2 linked regions of the Homo sapiens genome follow. The protein of the gene in region 2 interacts with the protein of the main gene of each other region in a biochemical or structural test. Each region holds a gene or a part of one and is shown on either strand. Other genes may lie near its edges.

What was found.
Region 1: the proteins of PDHB (region 2) and DLAT form a complex in vitro, tested with the Homo sapiens proteins (2 studies listed by BioGRID and IntAct, with this or other methods).

The regions. Positions count from the first base shown.
Region 1 is NC_000011.10:112,042,391-112,049,442, reverse strand, and holds part of DLAT (dihydrolipoyllysine-residue acetyltransferase component of pyruvate dehydrogenase complex, mitochondrial isoform 2 precursor), read right to left. Parts: intron 5,978-7,052; coding exon 5,910-5,977; intron 4,306-5,909; coding exon 4,213-4,305; intron 3,581-4,212; coding exon 3,473-3,580; intron 1-3,472.
Region 2 is NC_000003.12:58,427,130-58,430,832, forward strand, and holds the end of PDHB (pyruvate dehydrogenase E1 component subunit beta, mitochondrial isoform 1 precursor), read right to left. Parts: coding exon 3,528-3,703; intron 3,110-3,527; coding exon 2,999-3,109; intron 2,671-2,998; coding exon 2,579-2,670; intron 1,486-2,578; coding exon 1,344-1,485; intron 1,051-1,343; coding exon 905-1,050; 3' UTR 501-904; downstream 1-500. UniProt on the Homo sapiens protein: The pyruvate dehydrogenase complex catalyzes the overall conversion of pyruvate to acetyl-CoA and CO(2), and thereby links the glycolytic pathway to the tricarboxylic cycle.

The sequences.
Region 1 (7,052 bases), on a different chromosome or scaffold from region 2:
AAACTTACACTCTGAAAAACTATAAAAAAACTGTTGAAAGAGACTGAAGAACACCTAACTAATACAGGGGCATCTACATGTTCATGGATGAAAAGACTATATTCTTCGGATGGCAACACTTGCCAAACTGATCAGCAGATACATCCAATCAATCCTTATCAAAATGTCAACTGGCTTCAATGCAGAAATTTACAAGCTAATCCTAAAATTCACTTAGAATTGCAAGGGACTCAGACAAAACAATCTTGATTCTGGCTAACACGGTGAAACCCCGTCTCTACTAAAAATACAAAAAATTAGCCGGGCATGGTGGTGGGCGTCTGTAGTCCCAGCTACTTGGGAGGCTGAGGCAGGAGAATGGCATGAACCCGGGAGGCAGAGCTGGCAGTGAGCCAAGATCACGCCACTGCACTCTAGCCTGGGTGACAGAGCAAGACTCTGTCTTTAAAAAAAAAAAAAAAAAAAAAAAAAAATCTTGAGAAAAAAGAACAAAGATGACTCACGTTTCCTGATTTTACAACTTATTACAAAGCTAAAGTAATCAAGACTGTGGTACTGACATTAAGGGTATACAGAGATTAATGGAATGGAATTAAGAACCTGGAAATAGGCCAGGCATGGGGGCTCATGGCTGTAATTCCAGCACTTTGGGAGGCCAAGGTGGGTGGATCATTTGAGGTCAAGAGTTCGAGACCAGCCTGGCCAACATGGTGAAATCCTGTCCCTACTAAAAATACAAAAATTAGCCATGCCTGGTGGCTCATACCTGTAATCCCAGCTACTCGGGAGGCTGAGGGACGAGAATTGCTTGAACCTGGAAGGTGGAGGTTGCAGTAAGCCAAGATCACGCCACTGCACCCCAGTCTGGGCAACAGAGTGAGACTCAGTCTCAAAAATTGGCACATGACAAGGATGCTCTCTCTCACCACTCCTATTCAGCATAGTATTGGAAGTTCTGGCCAGGGCAATCAGGCAAGAGAAAGAAATAAAGAGTATTCAAATAGAAAAAGAGGAAGTCAAATTGTCTGTTTGTAGATGACATGATTGTATAGTTAGAAAACCCCATCATCTCAGTCCAAAATCTCCTTAAGCTGATAAGCAACTTCAGTGAAGTCTCAGGATACAAAATCAATGTGCAAAAATCACAAGCATTCCTACACGCCAATAACAGACAAACAGAGAGCCAAATTGTGAGTGAATTCCTATTCACAATTGCTATAAAAAGAATAGAATACCTAGGAATACAACTTACAAGGGATGTGAAGGACCTCTTCAAGGAGAACTACAAACCACTGCTCAAGGAAATAAGAGAGGACACAAAAACAAATGGAAAAGCATTCCATGCTCATGCATAGGAAGAATCAATATCGTGAAAATGGACATACTGCCCAAAGTAATTTATAAATTCAATGCTATCTTCATCAAGCAACCATTGACTTTCTTCACAGAATTAGAAAAAAACTACTTTAAATTTCATATGGAACCAAAAAAGGGCCCGTATAGCCAAGACAATCCTAAGCAAAAAGAACAAAGCTGGAGGCATCATGCTACCTGACTTCAAACTATACTATAAGGCTACAGTAACCAAAACAGCATGGTACTGGTACCAAAACAGATATATAGACCAATGGAACAGAACAGAAGCCTCAGACATAATGCCACACATTTACAACCATCTGATTTTTGACAAACCTGACAACAACAAGCAATGGGGAAAGGATTCCCTATTTAATCAATGATGTTGGGAAAACTGGCTAGCCATATGTAGAAAACTGAAACTGGACTCCTTCCTTACACCTTATACAAAAAATAACTGAAGATGGATTAAAGACTTAAACGTAAGACCTAAAACCATAAAAACCCTAGAAGAAAACCTAGGCAATACCATTCAGGACACAGGCATGGGCAAAGACTTCATGACTAAAACAACAAAAGCAATGGCAACAAAAGCCAAAATAGACAAATGGGGTCGAATTAAACTAAAGAGCTTCTGCACAGCAAAAGAAACTATCATCAGAGTGAACAGGCAACCTACAGAATGGGAGAAAATTTTTGAAATCTATCCATCTAACAAAGGGCTAATATCCAGAATCTATAAGGAACTTAAACAAATTTACAAGAAAAAAACAAATGACCCCATCAAAAAGTGGGCAAAGGATATGAACAGACACTTCTCAAAAGAAGACATTTATGTGGCCAACAAACATGAAAAAAAGCTCATCATCACTGGTCATTAAAGAAATGCAAATCAAAACCACAGTGAGTTACCATCTCACGCCAGTTACAATGGCGATCACTAAAAAGTCAGGAAACAACAGATGCTGGAATGTGGAGAAATAGGAACGCTTTTACACTGTTGGTAGGAGTGTAAATTAGTTCAACCCATTGTGGAAGACAGTGTGGCGGTTCCTCAAGGATCTAGAACCAGAAATACCATTTGACCCAGAAATCCCATTACTGGGTATAGACCCAAAGGATTATAAACCATTCTACTATAAAGACACATGCACACATATGTTTACTGCAGCACTGTTCCCAATAGCAAAGACTTGGAACCAAGCCAAATGCCCATCAATGATAGACTGGATAAAGAAAATGTGGCACATACACACCATGGAATACTATGCAGCCATAAAAAAAAGGATGAGTTTGTGTCCTTTGCAGGGACATGGATGAAGCTGGAAACCATCATTCTCAGCAAACTAACACAGGAACAGAAAACCAAACACCGCATGTTCTCACTTGTAAGTGGGAGTTGAACAATGAGAACACATGGACACAGGGAGGGAAACATCACACACCAGGACCTGTAGGGGGGTGGGGGGCTAAGGGGAGGGATAGCATTAGGAGAAATACCTAATGTAGATGATGGGTTGGTGGGTGCAGCAAACCACCATGGCACGTGTATACCTATGTAACAAACCTGCACGTTCTGCACATGTATCCCAGAACTTAAAGTATAATAAAACAAAACAAAACAAAAAATAACAAGATCTACAAAAAAAAAAAAATCTGGAAATAAAATTCTCACATATATGATTAATTTTGACAAGGATACCAAGACAATTCGATGGGGAAAGATGGTGCTGGGATGAAAGAATAAATGTCCACATGCAAAACAATGGTTGGATTCCTATCTCACACCACCTATAAAAAATTAACTCAAAATAGAGCAAAGACCTGAATATAAGAACTAAAAGTATAAAACTGTTACAAGGAAACAAAAGTATAAATCTTCATGACCTTAGACTAGGTAATAGTTTCTTAGATATAATACCAAAAGCACAGAAGAAAAAAATTGATAAAAGTGGACATAACCAATATTTAAAATCTTGTGCTTCAAAGGACAAGATCAAGAAAGTAACCACCAACTGATATATTGTAACAAAATATATGGACAAAAATATAAATGTTTGGTGGGGAAAGACAAAATTTTTATAACTTAGAAAGTTGGAATTTTCAGAACTTTTACCTTATTAAGTTCTTTCCGTACCAACAAAACTTCTCCCATATTTACATCGATAGAAAGGTAATAATGAGGTATGGTTTGCTTTGATTGCATTAATCGCTGTGCAATAACCTGAAACCAAAGAGATTTAAAAAATCAATTATCTTGAGTTAAGACCTTAACTAATTTAGGGCTCTGTTTGTCTCTTCACCTTACTCTCTGCTAATACTTACCTCAAGCATTATTATAATTGAAAGATGGAGGACTCCGCCATAATATAACACCTCCTAGATTTTTTTTTTTTTTTGAGATGGAGTCTCGCTATGTTGCCCAGGCTGGAGTGCGGTGGTGCGATCTCGGCTCACCACAACCTCCATTTCCCAAGTTCAAGCAATTCTCCTGCCTCAGCGTCCCGAGTACTTGGGACTACAGGCATGTGCCACCATGCCCGGCTAATTTTTGTATCTTTAGTAGAGACGGGGTGTTTCACTATGTTGGCCAGGCTGGTCTCGAAGTCTGGACCTTGTGATCTGCCCGCTTTGGCCTCCCAAAGTGCTGGGATTACAGGCATGAGCTACTGCGCCTGGCCCTTCTAATAGGAACAAAGTGATTCAAGTATTCAGTTGGCCAAAACTTCCCTTAAAGTAATCATCCAATATTCCCAACTTAAAAAGCCTCTGTTAATGTGTTAAAAACTATGGAAGCAACTAAACAACCTAAAGATGCCCCTAACAGCTGATTCCAGATGATGGTAATTCTCTTACCCGACGAATGTTGCTGATTGGGATATCTGTGAAGACACCTGTAGGAACTGGTGCCATTCCAGGACCTGTGGGAGGCACAACAGCTGCCGGAGCCTATGGGAGGAAAGAAAAAGCTCTTAGTAACTGTGATTCAATCTTAGCGTAAGTACCTGGGAAAGACTGCCAGTGACTATGCAGTTTTTTTTTTTTGTCTTTTGAGACAGAGTCTTGCTCTGTCACCCAGGCTAGAATGCAGTGGCTCAATCATGGTTCACTGCAGCCTCAACCTCCTGGGCTCAAGCAATCCTCCCATCTCAGCCCCTAGAGTAGCTGGGACTACAGGTGCACGCCAACATGCCCAGCTAATTTTTTTGGATTTCTAGTAGAGACGGAAATTAGCCACGTTGCCCTGGCTGGTCTCAAATGCCTGGGCTCAAGTGATCCACCCACCTTGGCTTCCCAAAGTGCTGGGGTTACAAGCATGAGCCACCATGTCCAGTCTAAAAACTAAGCTTTATAGAATACCTATTTCTGTCCCCAGTGAGCAAAAGAGACTTCTGCTTGTTTTAAGAGTTTTAATTTTTTTACTTAGAATTCTGAAGTCATGTTTTAAGTGTCATTTTTCTTTGTATCAGAGTATGTTCAATGACCAGTTTGTGTCAAAATAATTTTGTTTTTGCAAAATTATGTTCAAGAAAAGCAATGGAAGCATTCTTAAGTTGCAAGGAATAATAAATAAGTATAAACAAGCTAATCCATTATCCTAAACAATGTTAAGAAAAGGGGGTTGGGAGGCTCACTTGAGCCTCACAATGACTCACTTGAGGCCAGGAGTTCGTGACCAGGCTGGCCAACATGGCGAAACCCTGTCTCTACTAAACATACGAAAATTAGCCAGGTGTGATGGCATGCACCTGTAGTCCCAGCCACCTGGGAGGCTGGGGCATGAGAATCGCCTGAATCCAGGAGGCAGAGGTTGCAATGAGCCAAGATCGCGCCACTGCACTCCAGCCTGGGCGACAGAGTGAGACTGTCTCAAAAACAAACAAACAAAAAAAACCAAACACCAAAAACAACTCATTCAACTGTACTTTAAAATATTTTGAAAAAGAAAAAAAGAACAAATCTTTTATTTCAAAGCAAAAACCGATTAACTAGCTCAAAACATAATGTGGAATACATGTCAATGTAGTATATCATCTTTGATCTTGTATATAAATGATAGCACACAAATATCTAAATACACTTGGCCCTCCATATCCATAAGTTCTGCATCACTGGATTCAACCAAAGGCAAATCAAAAATATTCCAGAAAAAAACAGATGGTTGCATCTGAACTGCACAAGTACAGACTTTTTGTCCTTATTATTATTTCCTAAGCAATAAAATATAACAACTATTTACATAGTATTTACCTTGTATTTAATATTATAAGTAATCTAGAGATGATTTAAAGTATTTGAGAGGATGTGGGTAAGTTATATACAAATACTACACTATTTTATATAAGAGACTTAAGCATTTGCGAATTTTGGTATACAAGGGGGCTCCTGGAACCAACCTCTCATGGGTACCGAGGGATGACTGTATTATTAAACCACTGAAATTAGAAGAAAACAATCTTGGTTGAGCTATTTCGTTCATAAATAATGTATGAAATGGTCTAACAGGCTGTAGAGACAAACTGCAAAAAAAGTAAGAGCTACACATAACTCACAGGAGCAACTTTACTAGGCACAAAAGAGTCGATATCCTTCTTGGTGATTCTACCATCTGGTCCTGTCCCTGTAAGAGACATAAATATCACATACATGATGACATACCATTGGTTCCCCAAGGAGATCAACGCTGTGATCCTAAACTGCAAGCTCCTAAGGGTTTACTACCAAAAACATTCTGAAAGGTTCACAGCCTTAACCCTACCCCTTAAGGTGCTACCTACAAATACCAGCTTTTGTCAACTATTAATTTTAATCCACACAGAGTACCAGTGTGTGATCTGGAGTGGGTCTTTTCTTTTTAACTACTGCAAATATTCCTTTATGTATTTCTCTTTTAGAGTTTTATCCAAGTTGTACTTAATTTTTTTCATCTTCCTTACTTTTAAATTGGGAAATGTGGCATAAGGATAATGCCGAGCACAGTTTATATCTCCAAAAGGGAAACTAGCTGCCTCCTCCTGGTTAGCTCCAAAAAACCATTCCTAAGCCGTGAAATAGATTTCATTTGGGTTCTGGATTTATGTGACCATAAAGAATTCCTTTTATACAGAATTTACAGGTATAACAATAATTGTTTTGACAAATCAAGTCGATTTTTTCACCCCAAAATAGCACGAATAACTCTTTACTGCAATTATCTTATCTTTAGAATCATTCATTCCTTATGTGGTCTCTATGACTCATAGCTTTTTCACAGTAGCCAAGGCTCTAAACTGGCCCGTGTTAAAGGAAATGAAGGAAAAAGGTGCAATGTCACACATGAGGAAGGATCTTCAAAGTTCTCTCAGTAGGTTTAATTTTACTTATATTCAATTTCCTCCCTCCTCCCACCTACAGCCTCTTAGGTTTAATTTTGGACCCAAGTAGATAATCTTGACCTTTAATTCTACGGAGATTCAGAATTTAGTTATTATTATAGAATACCTTTTACACTGGCCCACTTCTAGGAAAAATTTGGTCAAACTGATTCATCTTCCCCCAAGGCAGACTTTAAAAAGGACTCTTGTTGTGTGTAGTTCTTCCCAATTCCTTTCCTTCATTACGAAAACTGAGTTGGCTAGGATTGTATTTATCCTCACTAGGAGCTCTAGAACAGAGGTGGTAGTACCCCTATTAGATTTCTCTCCTTTGTAAAAGAC
Region 2 (3,703 bases):
TTATCCTGCCTCAGCCTCCCGAGCAGCTGGGTCTACAGGCGCATGCCACCATGCCCGGCTTTAGTAGACAGGGTTTCACCATGTTAGCCAGGATGGTCTTGATCTCCTGACATCATGTTCTGCCCGCCTTGGCCTCCCAAAGTACTGGGATTACAGGCATGAGCCACCACGCCCAGCCCAGCCAATTCTTTCAATATAAAAATACAATAGTCATGGCCAGGTGTGGTGGCTCATGCCTGTAATCCCAGCAGTTTGGGAGGGCCAAGGCAGGTGGATCACCTGAGGTCAGGTGTTCAAGACCAGCCTGGCCAACATGGTGAAACCCCACCTCTACTAAAAACACCAAAATTAGCCGGATGTGGTGGCTAATTTCCTACTGAGGCTGAGGCAGGAGAATCACTTGAACCTGGGAGGTGGAGGCTGCAGTGAGCCAAGATTGTGCCATCACACTCCAGCTTGGGGAACAGAGCCAAACATTGTCTCAAAAAAAAAAAAATTAGTCATGTTAGAAATTCCTTTATTCCTTATCAAAACAAACTAACAGTAAATGTATATTATATGCTTTAATTTTATACATATAAGTTATCTTGTTTGGATACATCTTTCATGAGGACTCTGCCACATCCATACTTTGTCCTTGTGGTGAGAGAGGATAAAATGTTATATAATTTGTTATTCAAAGAACATGGCAACCGTAACAGACAAAAGGAAGCATGGCATCTAGGGGAGGAGAGTGGAGAGTTTTCCATACACAAACACATTTAAACTTCCCTGTACAAAAATACCTGCTGTTGCTTTAGAAATCGTTTTCCGTTATGAATAGTCAGGTCTTGCAGTACAAATCCAGGTGCAGTGCCAGCAAGTATTTCAAATAAATTTCAACGACTTGATATTCAAGTCCAAACTAAATATTTAATGTTTTCTTTATTGCAAATATGATGTCTTTGACCTGAGGTATAGAGTTGTCCTCTAGAATCTTTGCATAAGGCATAGGGACATCAGCACCAGTGACACGAACAGCAGGAGCATCCAGGAAATTGAACGCAGGACCTAGGAGAAGGAAGGCTCAACTGAGAGAGTGCAAATGCCAGCTGGGCACTACCACCTTGGCACAGAGGTGTGGCTGACCAGGAAGAGAAAATGTAAGGAATGCTAATTATGGGGAACCGCTTTCTGGATTTGCTTTTAAAAATATCTGCCTGAAGAGAAATGCCAAACTTACAAGTTTAAAGTTGAAGTCGTTTGGCCACTCCTAGCTTTCAATCTCTTTATCCTGTACGTATTCAGGTACATGATGTTTACTATAGCTTGACTGTATTCTAGAACCAGTTTCTTTGAAATACCTTCCATGATCCTGGCACAGATTTCAGCTCCTACTCCAAACTGTGGCCAGCCTCCTTCCACAGTTACAAGATGATTTGTCTTCATGACACTGGCTTCTATGGTTTCCATGTCCATTGGTCTAATGGTACGCATATTTATCACCTAAACAGGTAATATAATCAAGTTTACAGAGCTATTGCAGCACAAATAGAGCCTTATCCCCATAATACCATTTCCTTTTTTGTTTCCTGTTAATCTTTGTATCTAGGAAAATCTAATCTGCCTATGAATACCTATTCATGAATGTACAAACTGTAAAAGGAAAAATTTTAATTAAAACAAAGATCTGTATGTCTACCACAAGCAGCTCTGTGCAGTTATAGGATTCATTTATCTTCCTTCACTTTTTTATTTCTTTTGGGATGGAGTTTTGCTCTTGTTGTCCAGGCTGGAGTGCAGTGGCGTGATCTCGGCTCACTGCCACCCCCGCCTTCCCAGTTCAAGCCATTTTCCTGCCTCAGCCTCTGGAGTAGCTGGGATTACAGGCATAGACCACCACGCCTAGCTAATTTTTGTATTTTTAGTAGAGATGGGGTTTCAACATGTTGGCCAGACTGGTCTTGAACTCCTGACCTCAGGTGATCCACCACGCCCAGCCAATCCTCCTTCACTTTAAATTCCCTCATCAAAATGAGTTAACAGTTAACAGCTGAGTGCCCATCATGTACCAAGCACTACACTAAGTGTAATTCTCACAACAGCCCTATGACGGGACAGTATTTATATTATCCCTGTTTTATAGCTGATGAAACAGATTTAGAGTATATAACTTGCCCAAGTATAACTAGCACATGGTGAGTTTCTAAAAGATCCAGAACCTCAGAAGGGTGAGGTGGGAGCATCACTTGGGCCCAGGAGTTCACGGTTACAGTGAGCCATGATCCAGCCACTGCACTTCAGCCTGGGCAACAGAACAAAAGCCTGTTTTTTTCTCTCTCGGGGGGTATCACTGAGAACCAGAAGAGGTTCAGAGAGCTCCCACTGTCTCTCAAAAAAAAAGATCCAGAACCTAAGTGACCTGAGTGGTAAAAAGCTAAGTATGTGAACTGCAGGCAGGTTCCCAGCTTTAAGCAGAGACAGAAATGAGTGACAAAGCAAGGTTTTACATCTAATTAACCTGTTACAGAACTCTTCTGGGTCTTAAATCTAAAAGGAGCCCTTCTAATTCTTTAAGAACAAGTAAATGTCCACTCACCTCACATTCAACTCCTTCTTTAGATAGCACTGCTGCAGCTTCTAAGCAGTGGCCCACAGGTCTTGAATGGGAAACCACAGTTATATGTGTTCCTGAAAACAGAGTGGTCACAGATCAGAGATCAGGTTGAAACTGAAGATGCTACACCACTGTGCCGCCAGCTGTGGCTCTTGTTCATTCATAAAGTCTTCAATTCAACTTCATTCCAGTGAGCTGAGGAATGTGGCAGCCTTCCTAGAAATGAAACACAAACCTACCAGACTGAGATCTAGAAAAGCACAACTGAATGAGAAATTGGGGCATCTTGAGCTCATCCTATAATTTTTCAGTCAAAGTAAATGACAGTAACTTCTAGATTAAATTTTACCAAAATTGAGGGGCTGGATTAAAAATACTGTTTATATATCTTAGTTTTCTTACCTTGCCTTTCTATTTTGGCTTTTCCAATAGGAATCAGAAAATCTTTTGACTGAGCTTCCGGAGGAAATTCAAAAGGAACCCCATACATCAATTCATTCTCTAGCACCACCACTGAAAAACATAAATATTTAAACAAAAGTAATTAATCACATCCAGAATGACTAAAACTGCATAGAAAGCAATATCATTCATCTTGTGAGAAGTTTCATTGTGCTGATTAGCCTTATCTCTACCATGACCAGCAGCCTTGAGAGCAGTTTAGGTACTTAAATTTGTAGTGGTCAATATAATTTTATCTATCAAACCAGTATTGTGGGTGTGCAGTAAATGTCCCCTTTACCTAGCTGGCCCCCTTATATTCGGAAATAGGAAAAGCAAGCACATTCTTTACTATCTTTACTATATAAAGTATTAACATTCTATACGATATATCTAAGCCTAACTAAAAGACTTTAATGGTTTCCTCTGTGCAAATATATCATTTTAGTTTTTCAATCTTCAAAAAAAACCAAAGGGTCCCTGTGCTGACCTGGATTGTTATCCCGAATGGCTGATTTAATAAGTCCTTTAGCATCCTCTGAATTCCAGGGACTGACCACCTTTAAGCCTGGGCAGTGCCCATACCAGGCAGCAAAGCACTGTGAGTGCTGGGCAGCTACACCTGCTGAGGCACCATTGGGCCCTCTGAAGACTATAGGCACAGGC